Linked DNA regions of Homo sapiens. The protein of the gene in region 4 purifies or fractionates together with the protein of the main gene of each other region. This does not show direct contact. Each region holds a gene or a part of one and is shown on either strand. Other genes may lie near its edges. The genes, in order: CCNI2, LARP4, SIPA1L1, LARP1, IPO9, SLK and DCLK1.

Region 1 (2,239 bases), about 22 Mb from region 4:
AGGATGGAATGCATAGTTAGACTAATGACAACTTTACTGAGGTTGGAAATGGATGTCCCTGAGATGGTAGGATTAGTGGTCCTTAGTTGGGTGGTTGGACCTTCCTGAACTTGCTTCATGCTAACATTTTGGCACTCAATTGCCAATTTCTTAGAATGTATGATGGTTCTGCTTGAAGATGGCCACTCTATTCTAATACAGGTTGGTGATATGCAGTACAGCTGCTGCAAGGAACTTGTAATGCAGCAACTGAGAAGTCTTCAGTCATCCTCCTGCACAGACAACTTTGTGTCACCTGCCAACTAGCCCCTCTGCCTCCACCCCGGGGCTTTCAGAGCATAGTGTGAAACCTCCTTGCTTGGACTACCATGAGTTCTTTGGCTTGTTATGAATCCTGTAAAAAGGGAAGGTGGCTCTGGAAGAGCAACTGAGAAAAAGTTCCCAACTGAGCCCTTGGAAAAAAAATAAAGGGGAGAGGGGAAAGGCAGGCTGAGGTCAGTAGAGGTCAGGGTGGTCTGATAGACTATGACCCTGTCTTCCCTTTTTCTCCTCTGGGCCTGAAGCCAGGGAGTATGAATGAATGTTCAAATGGCAGCTTGTTTTACCTTCCTTCTCCAGCAAGGGTTGGCATTGGCCCCTGGGAGCGCTGGAATATGAAACCAAGAGGCAGGCCTGGCTCAGGGCTGAAGGGCTGGGGCTAGCTCTGACCAGTTCTTGCTGCTCTACCTGCCAGAGCTGGCCAGGTCCTTCCAACTTCCCAGGCTTATCCCAAACACATATGTGGTGCTTCCAGTCCCAACTACCCTGCCTGCCACTCCTCACATGGGACAGTCTCTGCAGATGCATTTACCCAACCATGGCTATGACTTATGTCTTCCCTTTACAAGGACTGGATTATAAAGTATGCTTTGTTTAATGTAACTTGAGCAAGCTTTAGGCATATCTTTCCTTTGTTACTCTTAAGCAAAGTGGTTTCAGTTATTAGTTTAACTAGAGGGATTTTGTGCTAATGAATGGGTATTATAGGCTAACACCTGTGATGGGAGGCACAGCTCTGAATGCTTTCTGTTGGGATGAGCAGGTTCTGAGGCCAAGCCTGCTCCAACCACAGTGCTGCCAGGAGGAGGAGCCGGCTGCCTCTCTCATGCTGTGCTACCACAGAGCCATTCTCTAAGCAGGGGAGTGCAGCTGACAAAGATGCCAGCTGGGGCTGTGTAAGTTGTGTTGGGGGCATGAATGACTGAGCCACACATTCAGAGGTGGTTTGTGAAGTCTTCCACTGTGAACTATGGTTTTTTTTTTTTTTTTTTTTTTTTGGTGTGTTTGTGTAAATGTGCTAAGCCATGGGGTGGGAGGGGAAAGATTTACTAGGTGCAAAGTGGTCAAGGGCCAGATATACTATAATTGTCTATATTATAGAGTTAGTATACATCTGTATTTTTTCTTGACACACTTTTGCTTGTTGGTGCTTTCGTTAAAATTACACTTTAATTGCTTCCGATCCTGTATGAGTCTTATTTTGAGCTACCATGCATTTAGCCTTGCGAGAGTCAGATACATTTGGAACACTATCTCCTAGGTCATATCAAGAACTCTCCTCTAGTCCAGAACCCATTTTACAGATGGAGATGCTGAGGCCATGCTGCTCACAGCTTCCAGTGGTGGCCGTTGAGTGCCCTCTGCCTCCTTCCTTCCAGTGTAAGTGGGACCACAGTGCATGAGGCAGAAGGACATCCTGAGGGCCCATACCAGTTTAGGCATCCCAGGCTTTAGGGGAACTGCTGGAAGACATCTGCTGCTTAACCAGGTGGCTATGGATGTGAGCTGGATTCTGAGAGCTGATCCAACTCAAACCTCTTGGAGAAAGCAGAGGGTAGACATGTGAGTCCTAGGACTGGGGTAAGAGACAACCTTCTGCTCTGGCTTTCTATAAATGATAGAACTCTTCTATAGGGAAGCTCACTTTTGTATTGCCGAAGTCCCACTCGTGGATTTTTAAAAATCTTATGTGCTTTTCAAGCTTGCCGTGGGGCCCCAGGTCCCATCCTACTTCCCTCTAATATTCTTTTCTGACATTAGGAACTCCTATCCCACCTCAACTCAGAGATTGGGAAACATTTCTCAGGGAGAAATATGGATACAATCTATTTTCCTTTTGACCCCAGCTATTGAAAGGCAGGGATTGGTGAAGGAATGAGGCTGAAGAAAATGGAGATGGAAAAAGCTCAGAGGCAGATGC
Region 2 (3,500 bases), on a different chromosome or scaffold from region 4:
AAGTATTCACTAATTATTTCTGTAATTAAAAATTACCAACCTGTATTGGTCAAATATATGGAAAAGAACTGTACACAAGTGGTTTTAAGTAACATGCAAAAATGTACTAAACACACCATGTATTTTCAAAACCATAGGTATACTTCCTTATAAGTAAAGATAACTTGACTGTCATTCCTGGCTGTCACCAAAAAGATGCAACGGATAAAAGGTAACAATAAAGAAATAACCATGGAGCCAAGTAAAGTATTTCAGAGTCAAGCAACTGCAAATATCAGTACCTTTATTTTTTGGAGGGGGGAGCGGGGAGGGGTGAGAGGGCGTGGCTGCAGGGAATAACAGAGTCTCACCGTCACCCAGGCTGGAGTGCAGTGGTATGATCTCGGCTCACTGCAACCTGTGCTTCTCAGGCTCAAGCAATTCTCGTTCCTCAGCCTCCTGAGTAGTTGGGACTTCAGGCATGCACTACACCACCACGCCCAGCTAATTTTTGTATTTTTGGTAGAGATGATGTTTCGTCATATTGCCCAGGCTGCTCTTGAACTCCTGAGCTCAGATGATCCACCCACCTCAGCCTGTGTTTATGTTTAGTAGTAAAATTTTTCTAACACTTGAAAATGATCTTCAATTGCTTTAACCAATTGTGTCTGTCAAGAATAGTCCAAAAACTCTGACTATTAAAGAGTAGTACACAATGTTTCCAGTGAGAAGAATATTTTTTCATTCTGTTGGGGCTCATTTCTCCAGTAAAACAAGTTTCAGAAAAACCTGTCAAAAAAGGACTAAGTTCCTAGAAGTCATCTTGGAAAAACATACTCCAGATGGTCTCCTTTCCAAAAGAAATAATTAGAAGAATCGAATCTGGCAAAAGACTGTCACTGAAAATAAACCATTAGGAAAAACCCTCAAAAACCAAGAGTCTCACAAAACAGCAAACGAGAAGTAATAAATGTGAAACTATTAAATAAATCGAAATGACTATATGTCAGTCCTTTATTCTTTGGTTACTCATACTGTGTTAAAAGCCATAGTATCACGCCTGTAATCCTAGCAATTTGGGAGGCCAAGGTGGGAGGACTGCTTTGAGCCCAGGAGTTCAAGACCAGTCGTCCCAGGCAACATAAACAGACCCTGTCTCTACCCCCACAACAACAACAACAACAAGCCATAACATACACCAAATATTGAGATTATCTGTTGATGTCTACATAAAGAAAAATACCTCAGACATACATCTCAATCTTTATGATAGCATATAGTTTCTATGATTCTTAATAATTTATCCTGAACATAGTGCTTTAAGTGCGGGCTTTGGAGTTGAACTGCCTAGGTTCAAATCTTAGCTCTACCAATTACTAGCTGTGTGTTCTCAGACATGATATTTTACATCTCAGATTCCTTATCTGTAAAGTAGACATAAGTGCACCTATAAAGGGTTCTGAAAAAAGTAACTGATAAAATATGTAAAGCCCTTAGGAACAGAGTTTGTGATATTAAATGTGCAATAAATGTTAGCTACTGTCTGTTGTGCACTGTAGTTCTTGGGTGTCATTTCAAAAATCCTTTAAAAACCTGAATAACATACATCCCAACATTTATTACACAATTCAGTTAACAACATTTATATCTTCAAAGAATTCATTCTCTAAAATGCTACCCATTTAACATACTAAATGGAAATTAGTCACCAGATTTGTCAGAGACTGGTGTCATGAAATATTTTTTCTATTCTCTTTTATTATTAAAAAAAATCTGAATCCCAAGTCTGTTACATGCATTACCAACTCAAAGGTCAAAGTGTTTTTACGAATTCTAGATTAAACTGTTCATATACACTTAGTAAAAACAAAACAAACAAAAAATCCACCAAACCTTATTACTGAGCCTGACAACAAACATTGCTATTAATGCCTTAAGATCCATTAGGAATTGTTTAAAATACATTACAGCTATGGTTTTTATCTTACCGATTTTTTTGGAATGGTCGACCCATATTCATAGCAGCAGCATTTGTTTTATAAGATCCTGGCGAATTAAAGCCATTCACAAAACTACCATTGGGAAAGGGAGCCTAGAAAAAAATGTATGTTTAAACAATATTAATGGCAAAGGTAAAATCTGGTGTGAGGGTCACAAGAACCTTAATGAGCTTATGAATTTATCTTTTACAAGCCAAAAATATCTTAAAATATTTTACTGATTCATTTCTGCAATATTCACTTCAAGTACCACTGGATTTATGAACAATTCATAACTTAGTAAAGAATGTCTGGTCTGACATTTCGCAACACTAAAATGCATTTAAAATCACGCAAAAGTTATCCAGTCTCTTCTTTCAATTCACTCAGCAAATTTTATGGAATAAAATTATGCGCTCTAATAGCTCACCTCTTAGTCATATGCATTTATTTGGTATGGAGAATTAGATATCCATATCACTGTTTAAAAGCCAAAAAGTGGCCGGGCATAGTGGCTTGTAATCCTAGCATTTTGGGAGGCTGAGGCGGGTGGACTGCCTGAGCACAGGAGTTCGAGACCAGCCTGGGCAACATGGCAAAATTCCATCTCTACGAAAAATACAAAAAATAAAATAAAATAAAGGCCAAAAAGTCATCAATGTCAACATAAATGAGCTCCCACTCCAACTGATTTCTTCAAATTTCAGCTCAAATTAAAAATATTATTATATTTTATTGTAAGGATCTCACTTACCAGTGGTGTTTCAAAGTAAGGTGTAGGATTTGGAGACCAAGACTGAGGCACAATACTATAGACCGAGTACTGTTGGTGAGGATTATATACAGGCTGCATAAAGACTGGGGAGGCATACTGTGCTTGAGTTTGAATGGGGTGACTATAGATACTAGAATCCATTAATCGATAACCATTCTTAGCAAAAAATGTATTGATGGCTTTTATCCTTGCCTAGAAGAGGAACACATTATAGCAACAAAGAATTAAGTGTATATTTTAAAAAATACATTTAATTTACATTTTAACATATATTTTACATGACTATACTATTTCTGCCTACAGTAGAATCAGTAGAGCAAAAGAAAAGAAAATGACAGCTTTAATTAATTAATAAATAATAAAAACGTTTTCATGGTATAAAAACCATAGTAAACAAGGTAAAACCCCCCCCGCCACACACAAACACACGTCAAAATAACCAGGTGTGCTGGCTCACACCTGTAACCTGAGCACTTTCAGAGGTCAAGGGGGTAGGATCGCATGAGCCCAGGAGTTCGAGGCCACCCTGGGTACCACAGTGAGACCCATCCCTTACAAGGAAAAAAAAAAAAAAAAAGCTGGGCATGGTGGCATGCAACCTGTAGTCCTAGCTGCTTGGGAGGCAGAGTGGGGAGGACTGCTTGAGCCAAGGAGCTGGAGGCTGCTGTGAGCTATGATCGCACTACCACACTCCAGCCTGGGCAACAGAGCGAGACCCTGTCTCTAAACAACAACAACAAGCAGAGTAAAAACCTCCCAAAAAACTA
Region 3 (2,617 bases), on a different chromosome or scaffold from region 4:
GAAAGCCAATTGAAGTAAATGGCACAGATAAACTGGGGCTTGCCATTGAGGACTTCTCTGAACAAGTCTGCAAGGAAGTGCTCTCAACGAGAAGGCACAAGAATAGGGGATCATTTGTTATGAGTATAGGAGAGAGGCCGCACTTACCTCTGGCACTGCTGGGGTGAGGAGAGCAGCAATCAGGCTGACTGCTGAGAACTTTAAAAATGCATATCCCAGAAGCAAGCCCCAAATGTGCCTCGTTAGGAAGGAGCCTCCAACAGAGAGAAGTGTGAGTGAGCCAAGACTGTTTTCCTGTGAAAGGATTATTAAAAAATCAGCAGATGAGGGTGATGACAGGCTCTTTTCTTGGGTCAGCATGGACTGAACAAATGGAAATGGAGGTGAATAGACAGAATGCTCCTGAGCGTTGCTGCAGTCCTGATGAGCTGCAGTGGCTTTGCGAAGGATACCACTGCTGCCCGGCCCCAGCCTCGTTGTGTCTGTCCAGCACCGCCCCTTTTCTACCACATCCGTGGCCTTCAGCCCACCCAAAATCGGACCAGCCTGCCGTACCATACTATGCGGTTATGGACTGCAGCTGACCATGTCCCTTCTCAAACCCATTCATTGTCAGCTTTTCATTGGCCTTCCTGCCTTAGAGATTGGAGGTCATGGTCACTCCATCAGCCCACAGCCTTGCCACACTGTACACCACGGTGGGTTTTGCCTCCTGGGGCCTCTTGTAGACTTAGGATTAGCAGAAGACATCAACACAGTTCATCTGAGGTCAGGAATTGTAACTTGAATCTTTATTTTTAAAGTAAAGAATACCTTTTACTCCGTGACCTAGAAAATTCGGAGTCACTTAGCTCTTTCCCATTGGCGCTGGGAAGAGGCTCTGCATGTTTTCCCGATGGAAGACTTTGGGTTCTCTGTGGTGTGCCCCTGAGGATGTATAGCTTGGCTAGGAATCAGGAAAATTTGGCAGCTTGAACTCAGGTAGAGGAGAGTGTGGCAAGAAAAGTTGTCAGTTCCTCAGCCATAGGACCCTCGGGGTGAGAGCGTGCCCAGCCATGCCGTCTGTCTAGCTCGCTGGCTGGCCTGCCGTACCCCAGCTCACACTTCTTTCGGTACTCCACTAGCACGGCATGATTAGCGTGCCATAAACAAAAGAAAACATGAGAAAATGAGAAGAAAATGGTTTTTTGATCAGACTGGGACAGAATTTAAGACATTAAGCCTAGGCTAACAAGATACTTAGACCAGTGGTTTAAGATGTAGGCATGATACCTTAGCTGCAATTGCATGAGTAGCTAAGACCACACACTTGGGACCAGAGACGACCTGCCTATCACATCAGCTCCCCAGCTTCCTTCCCACACACAGGGGAGTAACTCCTCTGTCAAAGCCCACTAGAGAGATCCCAGAGCCTCCCTGGGAATCATTTTACTGTTTGACAATTATATCTGCCAGAAAGTACCTCTTGTGCTGCCAAAGAGACCATTTTCACTATTGTGCTTCATTCTTTAGTCGTGAGGATGCAGCATCTTTAACAAAGGAAGCTATTGATTGGCTGCAGTTCAAGCTTTTATTACCTTTTTTTAAGACTACCATTTTCTTTTTTAAAGTAAAAATACTCATTGGGTCGCCATACTGAGTAATTTGACATTGAAAACCATTTTATAAATACAGCCTCCTCAGAGTAAAAAAAAAAAAAAAAAAAAAAAAACAAACCCAGCCATGGAGGCCCCTGCCAACATGGTCTTTTGTTTCTTGTTCCCAGCAGTAAAGACTCCTCTCCCACTCTGGCTTCTAAAGTGGACCAGCTGGAAGGTATGCTGAAGATGCTTCGGGAAGATTTGAAGAAGGTAAACATGTATTCTCAAAGCAAATTGTCCAGTCTGTACAAACTACCCTTGAACCATGAGAGCCCTTTCTAAGTAGCATGGTAAAATAAGACGTGGGTGTCTTCCCGGTGCCTGCATGTGTTTGGGGATGCAGGGATTTCAGTTGCCACTGGAACACACAGCATGAGGAGGCGTTCGGTGTCCGGTGTACAGAAAAACTGTTCAATAATTTGTGAAAGGCTGTGAACCTCAGCCAGCACCATCTGGGTCCTCTCCCGGCCTCCCCACTCCTTGTGTAATGTGTCAGTAGCCCAGACCCCCATGTAGTCGGTGTTATTGGGGCTTTTGCACCAAAAGAACTGAATGTTTTGTTTTTTGGGTGGCCTTGACTATATATCAAGACATCAGCCACCAACACAATTGTCTAAAATTTAAGACAATCCTGACTAACAAGGATGTTAAAATACACATTAATGTACTTACATTCCAGGATTACTTAGAGCTAATCCTGCAGGGTTGAATCTCTCTAGAAGCCCTGCTCCCTGAGCTTAGAGTGTCTTAGCACCTGATACCAGTCCGTTTAGACAGGTGTTTGGAGGAACGAAGAATAGAAATGGACAAAAGATCAAAACGGGTCCATAGCTATTACTCAGAAGAGCTGGGCAAGGTGGGGCCAACACCTCTTAGCTTTTCTACTTCACTCTGCCTCCCAGGAAAAAGAAGACAAAGCTCACCTTCAGGCGGAGGTGCAGCACCTGCGAGAGGACAACCTGAGGCTACAGGAGGAG
Region 4 (3,729 bases):
GGGACTCTTTGTTCCATCCCTCCCCAGCATCACATCTCAGGGTTCGGGGCTGACCAGGATTCCGTAAGTCCACATGGTGCTGGATCATTCCTCCTTCACCCCCCTGTGGAAAAGTCTGTTCATAGAGGGGTTGTGGCAACCCTCCATAAGAAGCCTCATCGTTTTTCTTCTTGGCTGTCTCATAACACAATGCAGGCCACAGCCAGGGGATGGAAAACCTGGAAGCTGACAAGTGCGCTGAAATCCTGGCATTATGCTGGACTGCTGTTTTGTGGCACTGGCTATGACTGTCACGTCTCACTTAAGACACAGGGTGGACATGAACTCAAGGCTTGTAGAAGCCCCTGCCTTAGGCAGACTCCTCGAAGCCCAATGGCAGAACCCCTGCCGAGGTTTCATGTGCACATTGAGTGCAGGGTTCCTCCGGATCTGGGGGAACTCTACCAGAAACCCATCCTTCACACCCAATAGCAGTAACCTAGATGGAAGACCAGCCAGTATTTTGCCTTTTCAAGTGTTTATTTTTATACATTTTTTTGTATTAAAAAGAAAAGCATAATTACCACAAATTACAAAGGACTAAAGCAGGACTAGAATAATGAATGAATCACTTCAGCCTGGAAAGCAGATACTCTCAATAATATTAATGTTATAATACAAGCTCATTCAAGTATTTTACATTTTTTTGTCCTTTTAAATATGATATCCTAGCACATAGTAAAGATAATGTACTACGAGCGTAAGGTGGAACCTTCTCCGCAAAGCCAGATGACAAGTTTTCCTCTCCAGTGAGAAATGGGCTCCAAGTTCTTATCTTCTCTGCCATCAGCATGGCTGAAGGGGGAGAGGGTGGGTGTTAGGGAAAATCCAGGGACCCTTCCACACAGGAGGTACTCTGGGGTTCCATTCAGGAGGGTGCCAGATAATTCAGATCACTCTACCCAGGCTTTTTGGCAAAAAACAACCCTCACCCTCCGTAACTAGTCATCTTCCTTGTCCCTCCTCCTCACTTCCCTTCCAGGGCCTTCTAAGCAGCTTACTTTCTTTTGTAAAATCAATCACCAGGAAAGGGGAAAAAAAAAAAAAAAGAGCTACAATGGAACAAAACAAAAACATTTAACAACTTTGACACAGGGGCTCAGCACCTCTATCTGAGCCCCAGGGGTCCAGGCTGGGGCACGGCTGGATGGCCCTTCTCTACTGGTAGTGCCTTTGCTCCCAAGTGCAGGAAGAGGGCTAAAGAGAAACCTGCCCCTTAACAGGGCTGAGGCACACAGACCTGCTGATGTCTGATGCCCAGAGGTTATGTTGGCATGGACCAACCTTGGAAGGGATAGGATGAACAGAGGGATCTGGGCAGGCTGTTGCTTTATCTCAGGTCTTGGATCCCCATGGGACGATGGTAGGTGTGAAGTGGTTAGCCCTGATGGCCCCTGCCACTTCTGGCATGCTTGTCACAGATACATCGGTCCTAAATTCAAGTGTCTTCAGAAAGTGAAGATGTAAACTACTCTTTGCAACATTAACTCCTAACATGTTACCAAAAACAAAAACAAAAACAAAAACAAAAAAAAAGGAAAGAAAAGAAAAAGCTCCCCTACCAACCACCAGCCGATGTTGAGATGAAGTCCTCACCTCCCTGCCCCAAAGGGGCTTCCTTTCAGGGATGTCTGTGAAGAAGATGGCAGCCCCCTGGCCTGGGAGTAAACTCTAGGTAATAACAGCCTTTCCCCATACCCTAAGGCTTCCTTGTGCCCCAAACCAGCAGAGGAAAAACACTGAGGTTTCTGTGGTGCTGGATACAGTACAGGGCTGCGTGACCTGAAGGAAAGAAAGGAAAGGAGAAGGGGGTCCAGGAATCCAGTGTCCGGTACAATGTGGGGCAGGCACCAGACTGGGCAGGGAAAGGCCTCGGATACCACCATCATAGCAGAGACCAGACGCTCATCCTTGGTTTGAGACATGAAGTCACAGGAACTGAGATGGGCTTCCCACATACCAACCACTGGGAGGGCAAAGGTGGGGAAGGGCACAGGCTAAAAATTAACAAGGTGCCCAAGGTAAAGGGCAAGCCCTTGTCAGCCTGGGATACTGTCTCCTACTCCCAACCTTTGGGCCCAACAGAGGAACCAGTTGAAAAGGAGGGCCAAAGACATTGCAGTAAGTAAGCAACAGGACAATGAACTCCATGTTGCCCAGATCCCACTGAGAGTGAACGTGCAGTCATGCCCATAACCGACACACATCCCAGTCCATGTGGGTCAGTCCTTCATCACCCTCCCTGCCTTCTGACAACAGCAGACTCCAGCCATTCCATTATCATTCACAGCCCAACCCAAGCAGTCAGTGGCTGAAGAAAGAGAATCAGGTATACTCTATGTCCACATATACCTTCCTGCCACAGGGCTTCACCAACTGGCAGGATTCCCCCCAGCCCCCAACTCCTCCTCATCCCTTGTTCCCAGGCGGGTCAATTGGAGAGTGAGCAGAGATAGATGGCTTGCAGAAGGGTATGCAAGATGGGGAGACTCCACCAGACCTTAGGGAGAGAATGGCATCTTTCTCCACCTTTTAAGAGAGACAGAGCCTCCCTGAGGTCTCAAAGATTTTTCAGGGCAACACAAGAAACGTTTCCAAGCCTCAGCTGCAGGTGTTCACCTTTCCACTCTGGGGTGTGAGGAGATGGTAAGCTGAGGACAAGTGTGTTCCAGATGCAGGCCAACTCTGTTCTCCAACAGTTTGAACCAACTTGGCCTTGGGGTTCCAAGGGTAGGATGAAGGGTGTCACGGCAGGACGGGGCCTGGCGTGAGGCAACAGCAAGCAGAGCGAGGACACAACAGTGGCAGCAGTGTACAGACACAGGACGTCAGCTTCAAACGATGCAACAGCAGGGATATCTTGGGCACGGCTCTGATTCGAGCCACTCCCAACTCTCTTGCCTCCAGGATGGAGGCACTGTACATGCAACAGTCCAGAGAAAGATTCTAGCCAGTCCAAGCCCAGGCACATCCAGAGAAGGTGGGAGCTCTTCGGGTTGACTCCACCGAGGAAAACAGGCATTTGGGTATTTCAGATTCCCGCTCCACAATAAGGCAACTTTTAAAAAAATATTATTTCCAAAAACAAAACAAAAATTCCAAGGGGAGGGGAAAGACATTACTTTCTGTGGATTAGGTGGGGGTTTTCTGATTTTTTTTTTTTTTTTGGTCTTTTATGGTCGATTTTGTCTTTTTTCTTCTTTTTTCCCCATTTTTTCAAGGATGGAAAGGTCAGAGAAAAATAAAATAAAACATCTTTCAATAGTCTTTCCTGGTAAAAGCAGCGTCTCTCTGGGCTGGGGAGTAAAGGGTGTGGGGCAAGGGGAGTGGGGAGAGGCTGAAACCTTCCCCCAAACCCCAGTTTTAGATCCTTTGGTTTCCTTCTCCCAGAAGATGGCAGAAGGGCATGGTGGGAACAGCAGGGAGAAAATATGGTGATGACAAACCCCAGATGATCAAGGGGCTGATGCTCCTGGGGCCCAGAGGTACCACCAGAGCCTTCTATGAGACAGTGCTGGGCAATGGGGGGGCCCGCAGGGCCTTCTTGTGGGCTGCATAGTTGGCTTGAGGGGGAGCAGGAGGTTAGGGGTGGGGACCAGGGTTGCAGCCTACTAGCCTCGGGCAGGGCTGCAGAGTGATTTTGGTAATCCAGATGAACTATCAATAATTTAAAACTTGATATATATATAT
Region 5 (4,207 bases), on a different chromosome or scaffold from region 4:
TCCTGGGAACCATTTTGAAGGCACATAACCTGAACAGCTCACTAAAAAATACCTGTTTCTGTTTGCTCTAGAACCTCCCATTCCAACAACATTCTATCCTTTCTGCCACTACATGCTTGCCACTCTGCCCTGCATTTTTTTTAATTTTTATTTTTTTTTATAGACAGAGTCTGTATATCTTGCCCAGACTGGAATGCAGTAGCTATTCATAGGTGTGATGACAGCACACTACAGCCTGGAACTCCTGGGCTCAAGTGATCCTCCTGCCTTGGCTTACATCTTGCTTTTTCTTCTTTTTCTGAGACAAGATGTCACTCTGTCGCCCAGGCTGGAGTGCAATGGCGCAATCACTGCTCACTGCAGCCTCCTCCTCCTGGGCTCAAGTGATCTTCCCACCTCCACCTCCCGAACAGCCGGGACTACAGGGCGTACGCCACCACGCCTGGGCAATTTTTGTATTTTTTTGTAGAGACGAAGTCTCGCTATGTTGCCCAGGCTGTTCTCGAAATCCTGGGCTCAAGCGATCCTCCTGCCTCGGCCTCCCAAAGTGCTAGGATTAGAGGCGTGAGCCACTGCGCCTCGCCACACCCTGCATTTTTAACACCTCACTGGAGCGCTCATCCTCTCCACCTGCTCCGCTATTCAGGAGCGGCTCTGCACCGTAGGCCATTTCCCACGACCAGCTGCTGACAACCATATCATCAAACTGCTCTTGTTCTCGCACCCCTTAAATGTCCAGCCATAATTTCTCAGGGAAAAAAATTTATACATTTTCAACAAATAGGATTCATTCTCAAATAGTCACATACAACACTCACTCTGGAAGAAACTCCCTTTCACATGCCGGTGTCTCCCCTGCCCAGCCACTTCCCAGCTTTGAGGTTGGGCTCATCTAGGCTGGAAAACCAAGGGACTGGGCCGTGGTTTTCCCACTTCCACTTCCCAGTTTGCTTTAGTTTATTTTCCCCCCTCTTTGGATTCCTGAGGCTAAGATGAAGAGAGTCACTTGAGCCAACTTTTTTTCAGTGTTTGGGGGGAAAAGAATGTGGTTTAAAATAGGGGCTATTTGTGACCCAGACCTCTCTCCTTAAAGCCCTCTACATCTATTCCCATCCCGCCTCCTCTCTCCTAACACCTGAAAGATGCATGAATATAAAGTCATATATCATGAACTTTATTCCAAATGAGATTGCTAACTTACTGTGCAACTTTAGGAAAGCCCCTTAACCTGTCTGGGGCTCAGTTTTCACACAAATCCAGAGATCCTTGCAGAGAAAGGTGCAGTTCTCGTTCAGGCAGCAGGAGGCGCTGTCTCTGGAGGCTTAGATTCATTCCCCGCCCTCCGCCCGCTCCCGCCCGCCTCTGGTGCGCAGGCGCGGCTTCGCGGATTGGCCGCGCGCGGGGGCCGTCATTCGGTGGCGGGTCCCGGCCGCGGGGCTGGCGGGCTGAGGGGAGAAAAGATGGCGGCGGCGGCGGCAGCTGGTGCGGCCTCCGGGCTGCCGGGTCCAGTGGCACAAGGATTAAAGGAAGCGTTAGTGGATACGCTCACCGGGATCCTATCCCCAGTACAGGAGGTGCGGGCGGCTGCTGAAGAACAGATTAAGGTGCTGGAGGTGACGGAGGGTGAGTGAGGCGGGACCGTCACGAGGATGGCTCAGCCGCACAATCCGCTGACCGCAGCTCCGTACCGGCTGGGGACATGGGGAGCCTGAGCCAGTTGGAGATGTGGGCGCCGAGAAGTGGAGCAGGAAGCGAGAGATTGATGTCGCTGGTGGTTGTGAAAGTCCGAGAGAGGAGAGGCGCGCCTGAAGGATAGGGTCGGGGGAGGTGGAGCCTGGGAGTGGGGGAGGGAGGGTGGAGACTTGAAAAGATAGATGGAGCCTAGAATCTGCAGGGGACGGAGATGGAGCTAGACTTGGTGCTGTTGGAGGAAGTAGCGCGGTCGGGGAAATATTTTTTGAGTCCAGGACCAAAGTCTTTCGCTGTTCTCTTCACCAGCTGGATTGTACTGGGATAAGAGTAGGGGGAGCTATTAGTAGGAGTGGTGAAGGGTAGGGCCTCGAAAAGGCGGCTATCAAAGCTTAATAGATGTCATCAAACAAGTTTCTGCCTCTGAGTTATAAACCTAGCTAGTTGTTTGTACTCTTCGTGTTTTCCCAGAAATTAAATGCATATGCGATTGCTTCACTGTCCTGACCATACTTAACGTTTATTTTAAAAATAATTTGCCCTTATTAAATACCTTTGTGCATTTCTGTTTGGAGGAACTGATCATCCTTTGTTTTTGATTCTTTGTCTCCGTCCTCTATTGTGTGCTTTAAAGTGATGGAGAAGAAAATAAACCATTGGTTCGAGATTTTCTATCAATTTCCTGCCGCGTGAGCCTTTCACCGGGTCCAGTGTAGCTACCACAAAGAACAATTTAATCCAGAAACAGGAGGAGAAATCTTCTTGGTCTTTGTGTAAGAAATATATCTGGTCAGAGCTTCACTGGAACTCCAAATCCTCAGAATCTCCCAACTCAGGAATATTTCCACCACCACTTAAATACTTCATCAGAGATATGGGAAATTGTCCCATCACACACCCATCATATTCAAAACCTTCAGTTAGCTCTCCTACTGGACGTATTTCTATTGAAAAGAATTTAGAACAAATCTCTCTTAAATTTAGTTTACATTCTTTCACAGTATGAAAGAGCTGTTGAAAACAAATTTTCTTCTGTTGGAAATATGTTAAGATTTGGGATCTAACAGGCTAAGGACCATTTTGAAGGCCCACTTGTAATTGTCATTGTTTTATAAAATATCAGATCTATACAGGAGAAACCACTGGTTAGGAGAAAGCTGTTTGAGAACCATGTATAAACTAATCTAAAGGAATTTTTAGCGGCTTCTAAATAAAATTCGTTTATGCACATTAATGTCTGTCCCCCTTGAGTATGAGGAAGGAAGAGTGACAAAGCAAAGGAACCTCATCACATTCAAGTTGTCACCTGAATAAAACTTGAGAGTCTGGTGCAAATTCATCTTAACTAAACCTTCCCTGAGTGGTACCCAGTGCTCCTGGTGCTCCAAATGCATGTCTGGCACCTTTGTATGAAAGGTGGACCTTGACTTGTATTTAAACTGTCTTACAACAACTCCACTTTTGCTCTGATCTTTTCAACTTTAGCCAAATGCCATGGTCTCATCTGGGCAAAGTCAATTATAAAGTTCTCGAGGTCTTTTTTGAAACTCTGATTCCTCACTTTATTCATCTTTTTTTTCTTGAGACTGGGTCTCGCTCTATCGTGTAGACTTTGGAGCAGTGATGCCATCATGGCTCACTGCAGCCTCAAACTTTTGGACTCAAGCGATCCTCCCACCTAGGCCTCCCAAAGTGCTGGGATTACAGGCCTCAGCCACCACACCTGGCATCTTTTTGAGCCTTTAAGTGAAAAATTAAATTTCAGAAGTACAGAATTTTGATCTAAGTCACTGATGAGAAATAGATCGACTGCCCCCCGACCCCCATAACTTACTGGTAATGTGCTGTTGGGCAGACTATGAGAATGAAAAGTATGGAAAGGCATCGATGCAGTGACCTGATATTGGTGATCTAGTAATAGAGCATATGACTCAGGTTTTGGATTTGGTTAGAGGGTTGGATCAGTCTCTGGAGTTTAGTGCAATGCTTCGGACCCTTTGGAGGCTGCTTGTGTCTTTTAAGTAGTCTGGCTCCTTAATGTCTATCAAAAAAACTATAGAGATTTACCCCCTTCTGTACCTGTTTTAAGGTGGAGAATGGCGGTCCATTCCCTCAGATGCGGTCTGCTTTCTTCCTCTTGTGGCCTTTAACAAGTTATCTTTGACATTGGGTTCAGAGTACCTCCCACCTTAAACTCTGTCTGAATCTCTCAGATGTTTTCTGAACATGGTGCAATATAGTAGCTGCTTCTTTACCAGCCTCAACCCTTCTTTACATGAAAACATAGAACCCAGCTTTCCAGCCGGGATTTAGCCAACTATCTGGCCTGATGAAACTGGCAGGACATGGTTCCTCCTATTAGAATGCCCTACAGAGCAAGATGAGCCATTCTTGCAAACTACTTTCCACTTCTTTGGTGTTGCTTCACATTTTAGTGTTTTTTGCTTTTGTTGTTGTTGTTGTTGTTGTTGTTGTTGTTTTGAGACAGAGTCTCAGTCTGTCGCCCAGGCTGGAGTGC
Region 6 (3,500 bases), on a different chromosome or scaffold from region 4:
ATCTAAGGATTGATGGGTGGCAACGCAAAACCTTTAAATTTAGACCTGAAGATTAGTAGCAAGGTTGCTCGTCGCTGCACATTTTTGTTATATTTCCCTTTTTTTTGAGATGGAGTCTCACTCTGTCACCCAGGTTGGAGTGCAGTGGTCACTACAACCTCTGCCTCCCGGTGTCAGGTGGTTCTTGGGCCTCAGCCTCCCGAGTAGCTGGGACTACAGGCATGCGCCACCACACCCAACTAATTTTTGTATTTTTAGTAGAGATGGGGTTTCACCATGTTGGCCAGGCTAGTCTCGAACTCCTGACCTCAAGTGATCTTCCCTCCTCGGTCTCCCAAAGTGCTGGGATTACAGGTGTGTGCCACCGCACCCGGCCCATTTTTGTTATATTTCTTGTGAGAAGAATTGTTAATTCTTTAAATTCAGCAACATTTACTGAATAAAGATCTGAAATCACTGTAGGTCTGTAAACATTGTTTTGGTCACTCTAAGGTCATGTTTTAACACTAAAAATACATTAAATCTTTTTTAGCCAATACCTGCAAGTAAGCGTGCATCTTCTGACCTTAGTATCGCCAGCTCTGAAGAAGATAAACTTTCACAAAATGCTTGTATTTTGGAGTCTGTCTCAGAAAAAACAGAACGTAGTAACTCTGAAGATAAACTCAACAGCAAAATTCTTAATGAAAAACCCACCACTGATGAACCTGAAAAGGCTGTGGAGGATATTAATGAACATATTACCGATGCTCAGTTAGAAGCAATGACTGAACTCCATGACAGAACAGCAGTAATCAAGGAGAATGAAAGAGAGAAGAGGCCCAAGCTTGAAAATCTGCCTGACACAGAAGACCAAGAAACTGTGGACATTAATTCAGTCAGTGAAGGAAAAGAGAATAATATAATGATAACCTTAGAAACAAATATTGAACATAATCTAAAATCTGAGGAAGAAAAGGATCAGGAAAAGCAACAGATGTTTGAAAATAAGCTTATAAAATCTGAAGAAATTAAAGATACTATTTTGCAAACAGTAGATTTAGTTTCTCAAGAGACTGGAGAAAAAGAGGCAAATATTCAGGCAGTTGATAGTGAAGTTGGGCTTACAAAGGAAGACACCCAAGAGAAATTGGGGGAAGACGACAAAACTCAAAAAGATGTGATCAGCAATACAAGTGATGTGATAGGAACATGTGAGGCAGCAGATGTGGCTCAGAAAGTGGATGAAGACAGTGCTGAGGATACGCAGAGTAATGATGGGAAAGAAGTGGTCGAAGTAGGCCAGAAATTAATTAATAAGCCCATGGTGGGTCCTGAGGCTGGTGGTACTAAGGAAGTTCCTATTAAAGAAATAGTTGAAATGAATGAAATAGAAGAAGGTAAAAATAAGGAACAAGCAATAAACAGTTCAGAGAACATAATGGACATCAATGAGGAACCAGGAACAACTGAAGGTGAAGAAATCACTGAGTCAAGTAGCACTGAAGAAATGGAGGTCAGAAGTGTGGTGGCTGATACTGACCAAAAGGCTTTAGGAAGTGAAGTTCAGGATGCTTCTAAAGTCACTACTCAGATAGATAAAGAGAAAAAAGAAATTCCAGTGTCAATTAAAAAAGAGCCTGAAGTTACTGTAGTTTCACAGCCCACTGAACCTCAGCCTGTTCTAATACCCAGTATTAATATCAACTCTGACAGTGGAGAAAATAAAGAAGAAATAGGTTCTTTATCAAAAACTGAAACTATTCTGCCACCAGAATCTGAGAATCCAAAGGAAAATGATAATGATTCAGGCACTGGTTCCACTGCTGATACTAGCAGTATTGACTTGAATTTATCCATCTCTAGCTTTCTAAGTAAAACTAAAGACAGTGGATCGATATCTTTACAAGTAAGTGTACATGAGTCATTGTTTGGGTTTTCCTTTGCCATTTTCTCAATTCAGAGTTTATGTGAAATTGATGTCTTGAAAATAAAACAGCATTAAATTAATGTAGTATTAACAATATAAATTCTTACAGCCTATGAAAGCAATTAAAAAGAACTAAGGAGATTGTGGATCTAATCTTTAAATTTTGTGGTAGGATCTACCTATTTTTGCAGACCTGATGCAGATAAACAGTGTAATATGGTTGCTTGGTGTGATTAGGTTCCTTTATTGGACATATCTAGATGCAACATTAGCAAGAATCAACAATGTATGAGAGAATTAGAAATTGAAAGAATGATGTCTTTTTAAGCACATTTAGGGTGTAAACAATCCTTGATTTACCATTGGCCCATACAGTCACAGACATTGCTACTGCCATGAGAACCATTGTGGGGAAAACAAAACAAACACTAAAGCCCAGAACACTTGGAGCTTTGAGTGTAATTCTCAAATTTTAGTGTGCTTAGGAGTTACTAGCGGCTATGTAGAAGTCTGGAGTGGGTCCCAAGGATCACTATTTGTAAAAAAAAAAGATCCCACAGAGTTCTGATGCAGGTGATCCATGGGCTGCCCCTTGGAAAATACTTCCTAGACCCTCTGGGTTGATAGTAGCAGAAGAGAAGACAGAAAAGCAGGAACAACCTAAGAAAACTGACATAGATGGATCTCTAGGGCATGAGTGATTAGTCTGCCTATCTGCCCCAAATTCCTAGGATTTTCTTACATGTATTCCTAGGATTTTCTTCTTTTTTCAGTTTACTTTCTTTCACTGACTGAAATAACCACCACTCTGAAATTCATTCACTGACTTAATAGCCTCTTTTAAAAATGCAAATAACTTGTATAAGAATGAAGAAGATATTAATTATTGAACTTTTAGTAGGAGCTGAAGAAATGTGAAGTTTGGAGGTTAAGGTGTAGATAGGTGTATTTTTTGGAGTCTGCCAACTTTAGATTTTAGAGGAATCCTGGGTAGGGTACCATAGTCCTGGACTTTGGAAGAAGAGCATGAGGATCCTGGAAGCTTGGAGAAGAGAACAGTAAGAGGAGAGGATGCAGAAAGGTGATTGGAAGGTGCCAAAGAGAAACTGTTTAAAATTTGGATGCATTTTGAGTTTAGCATTTTCACATTCCATTTTTGCTTCCTCTGCCTTCTAACCCTTTCTTCCATATCAACACCCAGTAAGTATCTGCCCTGAACACTTAGTTTACCAAAATGTATTTGTAGGAGTCTTATATGTCTGTTATTTCTGTTTGCATTTAAATGTTTTTGGATACCAGTTGAGGAATGAAGAGTTTAGTCTTAATAAAGAATTTTAGGTCATAGCTAGCAGCCAAATCTGGTACTTTTGGGTGCAGCAGAGGCACTGTCTTTCTAGTAACCCTAAAATCATACATATATCTCTGGCCCTGAGATGGAGGGAGGGGCTGTCGATATTATTGTTACTGATTAAGTAGATTTTGATCCCCAGTGCTGGCAGTGTTTAAAAATTACCTGAGAGCTTTTTCAAAAAAAAGAGATTTCCAGCTACCCTCAGACCTGTCAATTTAGTTTTTTTTTAAGAGATGAGCC
Region 7 (3,231 bases), on a different chromosome or scaffold from region 4:
AAATAAGCAGAGAAAAAAAAATGTGAATAAACTACTGAAAACACTTGGTGTTTTGTGTTCAATGAGACCTTCCTGCAACCTGCTCCCCATGGGTGGCAGTTAACAGGCCCATCAGATATTGTTGAAAGAAAGCAATATATCCATGAATGAAGGCTAAAATTGCAATCCTTTACCCTTTGAGGCATATTTCAGTTGAAAACAAAAAGAAAAGAAAATTTGGCTTAGAGGGTCACAGAGCTCCCATATGACCAAGTCTCAAGCACATTAAATCATGGTTGTTTACTGGCCAAGGGCGTCCACTAGACAACTCTATCCCTTGCGCTGAAGCTCAATCGTGCTGAGGGAGAGCTTTCTTAATATTACTGTGTTGCTCTTAGCCCTTCTCTGGGTTAGGATCTGTCAGCATTTCTATGATAAACTCCTATTCTCAAAGGTTTTTAATTTGACCATAAAAATGTGCCCCAGGCTGAAGTTTGCTATACAGGGCTGTACCAAAGAGTGAAGGTTTACTTCCTTCTCTTTCCAACTTCTTCCCCATTCTCCAAGGAAAAGAACAACAAAAAAATCTGGTATGGTCCCTCCTTAATAGTGATTTCAGAATTTTGGAAAGCACCAAGATCCAAGATGGTAGTTTTAATGTAGTTACTCATTCGCACACATTTTTTAAATTTAATGGGTCACCTGGCATATATTGTAGATAACATATCTTTTCTATAATTTGTAAGTCAATAATTTTTTTAACTGCTACATGATATTTTTTTTTGCCCAAAGATTTTAAAAGACTTGAAGTTGGTCAGTTCAAAACTCAGATTTTTCTACACATTGTCTGCCATGTCCATTAGGAGTTTGGGGAAAATACTCTCACACAGACCCTTACTTTGCATGCAGTTTAGAGGGTAAGATACGTGCTTCTTTTGGGGATAAAGATTTCCTTACTTAATTGTCAAATTTCATGGAGCCATTCTAGTCTGTTGGGGAAAATAGTGATTAAAAGCACTTCCAAAATTAACATTTTTTGACAATTCAGATATGAAAAGAAGCAGGGGAAAATAATACACTTTACTCTTTTCTTGCTTAAAGGCAAACAAATCAATGAAACTTGAGGACACACTAAACATTTGATAACTGCAAATGTGCTTTAAAAATTGGTTCAATGGTGCTTACACATGAAACGGTAACAAATGGGGTTCCTAGGACGTCAGAAGGAATCTTTAGTTTGTATGTAATTACACACTAGAGGAGGAGGTGCTTTTAAGCCAGTCTTTTATTTTTAATCATCTCAAATATGCAACCATACATGCAGTAACATTAAGGGTCGTAAACTGGTGGGAAACAGGAACTTCAGTGGAGAGGCTTAAATGCCTCTGGTTAGAGTGGGGGTTTTTGTTTGTTTGTTTATTGTTGGGTTTCAACACTGAGCATCATTTCTGTGATCAAGTTTCTAACTGGCATGTGTTTTGATCATGAGGTTTACCATATCTTGCCCATACAGACAAATGAGAGATCTAGTTTCATTTTGTTCCCTAAAGAAAGAACACTCTCTAAAATTAAATCATACCTGTAAATTTCTTCAGCATTTGTTTCTGTTCAATGAAATTGAGACCCTTAATGTTGCTTTAATGTAAAATTGAATATTTTGTCTGTGATATACTTTAATAATTTAAAGTAAGTAATAGTTCTAAAGTCTTCACTGTTGCTACTAAGAGAAAATAGAATTTTAAAGGTGATGATAAAGATGCTATAATGTCAGTTCACTCCAGTCCAATCAAATGTAGTAAGAAAAAGTCCTTGAATAGTTCTCTAGGGACAATTTCTCACTTGCCATTGACATTAATCTTTGGTGTATTCTCAGAAAAAATAAAAAGAAATTGAAACTGGTCCAAGGTTATAGTCATATCCTCGATAACTTTTGAAAAAAAATTTTATTAGGAAATTAATACTAGCCTTTTTCATTCTGGCTGAAAGAAAATTATTAAAGGATTAGTTGAGTGTGAAATTCAACAGTATTTTGCTCATACATACTAAAAAGGTGCGTAGGGACTTGGCGCATTTAAACAAGTTTCTGAAAGGTTTCAATTTGACTCAAGAAAAAAATTCAATATTTCTTTTGAAAATACTGAATTTATCACTTGCTGCATGGATCAGATGGCATAGGTTAATCTTTGATTTTCAGAATCCTAATGAAATAACTTTCAAACAATTTGTGTCCTTAATTAAAGGTGGAATGAGATCCAATTTTTCCCCCTAATCCTTCAGTTTAAGCTGATACATGTAGGTTAATGTGGAATGAAATCATCTGTGATATATTATGTTCATTTATCAACTGAGCTTTTTTGATGTTGCCTGTTTTTATGTAAAACATGTTCTTAAAGTTAATAAAATAATAGTACTTGGTGTATGAACTACTACATAATACCTTAGCTGAAGGGTACGCTCCTCAGTTCATTTGCCATATTGGAGTAAAATTTCACCTTAGTTCAATTCACAATTGACACATTCAGTTCACGAAGGAATAGCCCAGCTGTGTTCTTAGGGGGAATTCTCTCTATGCAAGGCTTTAAAAATTAGTCATGCGGTCAGAGTGTAGCTTTCCCACATGTCCTCCATAGCACAGTGTGTATTTCATGAGCATAATTCAAAAACAGCTATTTCAAAAATGTCCCTTGTCATATATTACGTTCCTGCCTGGGCCACTGACTTGGATAAATACAAATAAACCAAATACCATTCAGCCCTATTTTATCCTTCAACCTACGTGCACAGGCTCTCCAGAGAAGGGTGTTGTTTTATCCACTAACCTGTAATTAGCTGCCACTTTTGTAGCAATTTCCCATTAGGCATTCCATGTGTAATATTGGCCTTAGAGAAAATTGCAAAACTGTACAATGGATTTAAGTTCTTTCCTGTCGAGCTTTTCAATGCTAGGAGATTGAAAAGTCAGCCAGCAAAAGTGACTGCAGGTTCCCTGGTGTCCTATGAAGGTGCCAGAATATCTCCAAGTGCCTGTAAAATTAGCAGTCACCTTCCCTGCCATCCACAGGCTGCTGCTGCAGCTGCTGTTCTCCCTTTTGCTGTACTGTACTGTCGTGAAGTCACTGGGTCCTTTCTAGACTCTCTGGCAACTGCTGGGAAACAATAGCTAAAGTGATTACTTCCTAAAGACCATTACCTTGTTTTACGAGGCTGGCAGCTCTGCCAAAAACCTGCCATCGAAAACCTGGGCCTTGGCGT

The links.
Region 1: the proteins of LARP1 (region 4) and CCNI2 purify together in Homo sapiens (co-immunoprecipitation; one large-scale study listed by IntAct). This does not show direct contact.
Region 2: the proteins of LARP1 (region 4) and LARP4 fractionate together in Homo sapiens (co-fractionation; one large-scale study listed by BioGRID). This does not show direct contact.
Region 3: the proteins of LARP1 (region 4) and SIPA1L1 purify together in Homo sapiens (affinity purification with mass spectrometry, with the first as the bait; one large-scale study listed by BioGRID). This does not show direct contact.
Region 5: the proteins of LARP1 (region 4) and IPO9 fractionate together in Homo sapiens (co-fractionation; one large-scale study listed by BioGRID). This does not show direct contact.
Region 6: the proteins of LARP1 (region 4) and SLK fractionate together in Homo sapiens (co-fractionation; one large-scale study listed by BioGRID). This does not show direct contact.
Region 7: the proteins of LARP1 (region 4) and DCLK1 purify together in Homo sapiens (affinity purification with mass spectrometry, with the first as the bait; one large-scale study listed by BioGRID). This does not show direct contact.

The regions. Positions count from the first base shown.
Region 1 is NC_000005.10:132,752,665-132,754,903, forward strand, and holds the end of CCNI2 (cyclin-I2), read left to right. Parts: exon of another isoform or gene 1-201; coding exon 202-306; 3' UTR 307-1,739; downstream 1,740-2,239.
Region 2 is NC_000012.12:50,452,885-50,456,384, reverse strand, and holds part of LARP4 (la-related protein 4), read right to left. Parts: intron 2,926-3,500; coding exon 2,713-2,925; intron 2,072-2,712; coding exon 1,968-2,071; coding exon of another isoform or gene 1,964-1,967; exon of another isoform or gene 1-1,963. UniProt on the Homo sapiens protein: RNA binding protein that binds to the poly-A tract of mRNA molecules. Associates with the 40S ribosomal subunit and with polysomes. Plays a role in the regulation of mRNA translation.
Region 3 is NC_000014.9:71,736,476-71,739,092, forward strand, and holds part of SIPA1L1 (signal-induced proliferation-associated 1-like protein 1), read left to right. Parts: intron 1-147; exon of another isoform or gene 148-294; intron 295-1,765; coding exon 1,766-1,850; intron 1,851-2,542; coding exon 2,543-2,617.
Region 4 is NC_000005.10:154,814,377-154,818,105, reverse strand, and holds the end of LARP1 (la-related protein 1), read right to left. Parts: 3' UTR 501-3,729; downstream 1-500. UniProt on the Homo sapiens protein: RNA-binding protein that regulates the translation of specific target mRNA species downstream of the mTORC1 complex, in function of growth signals and nutrient availability.
Region 5 is NC_000001.11:201,827,750-201,831,956, forward strand, and holds the start of IPO9 (importin-9), read left to right. Parts: upstream 1-1,407; 5' UTR 1,408-1,460; coding exon 1,461-1,623; exon of another isoform or gene 1,624-1,810; intron 1,811-4,207. UniProt on the Homo sapiens protein: Nuclear transport receptor that mediates nuclear import of proteins, such as histones, proteasome and actin. Serves as receptor for nuclear localization signals (NLS) in cargo substrates.
Region 6 is NC_000010.11:104,001,640-104,005,139, forward strand, and holds part of SLK (STE20-like serine/threonine-protein kinase), read left to right. Parts: intron 1-532; coding exon 533-1,888; intron 1,889-3,500. UniProt on the Homo sapiens protein: Mediates apoptosis and actin stress fiber dissolution.
Region 7 is NC_000013.11:35,768,152-35,771,382, reverse strand, and holds the end of DCLK1 (serine/threonine-protein kinase DCLK1), read left to right. Parts: 3' UTR 1-2,731; downstream 2,732-3,231.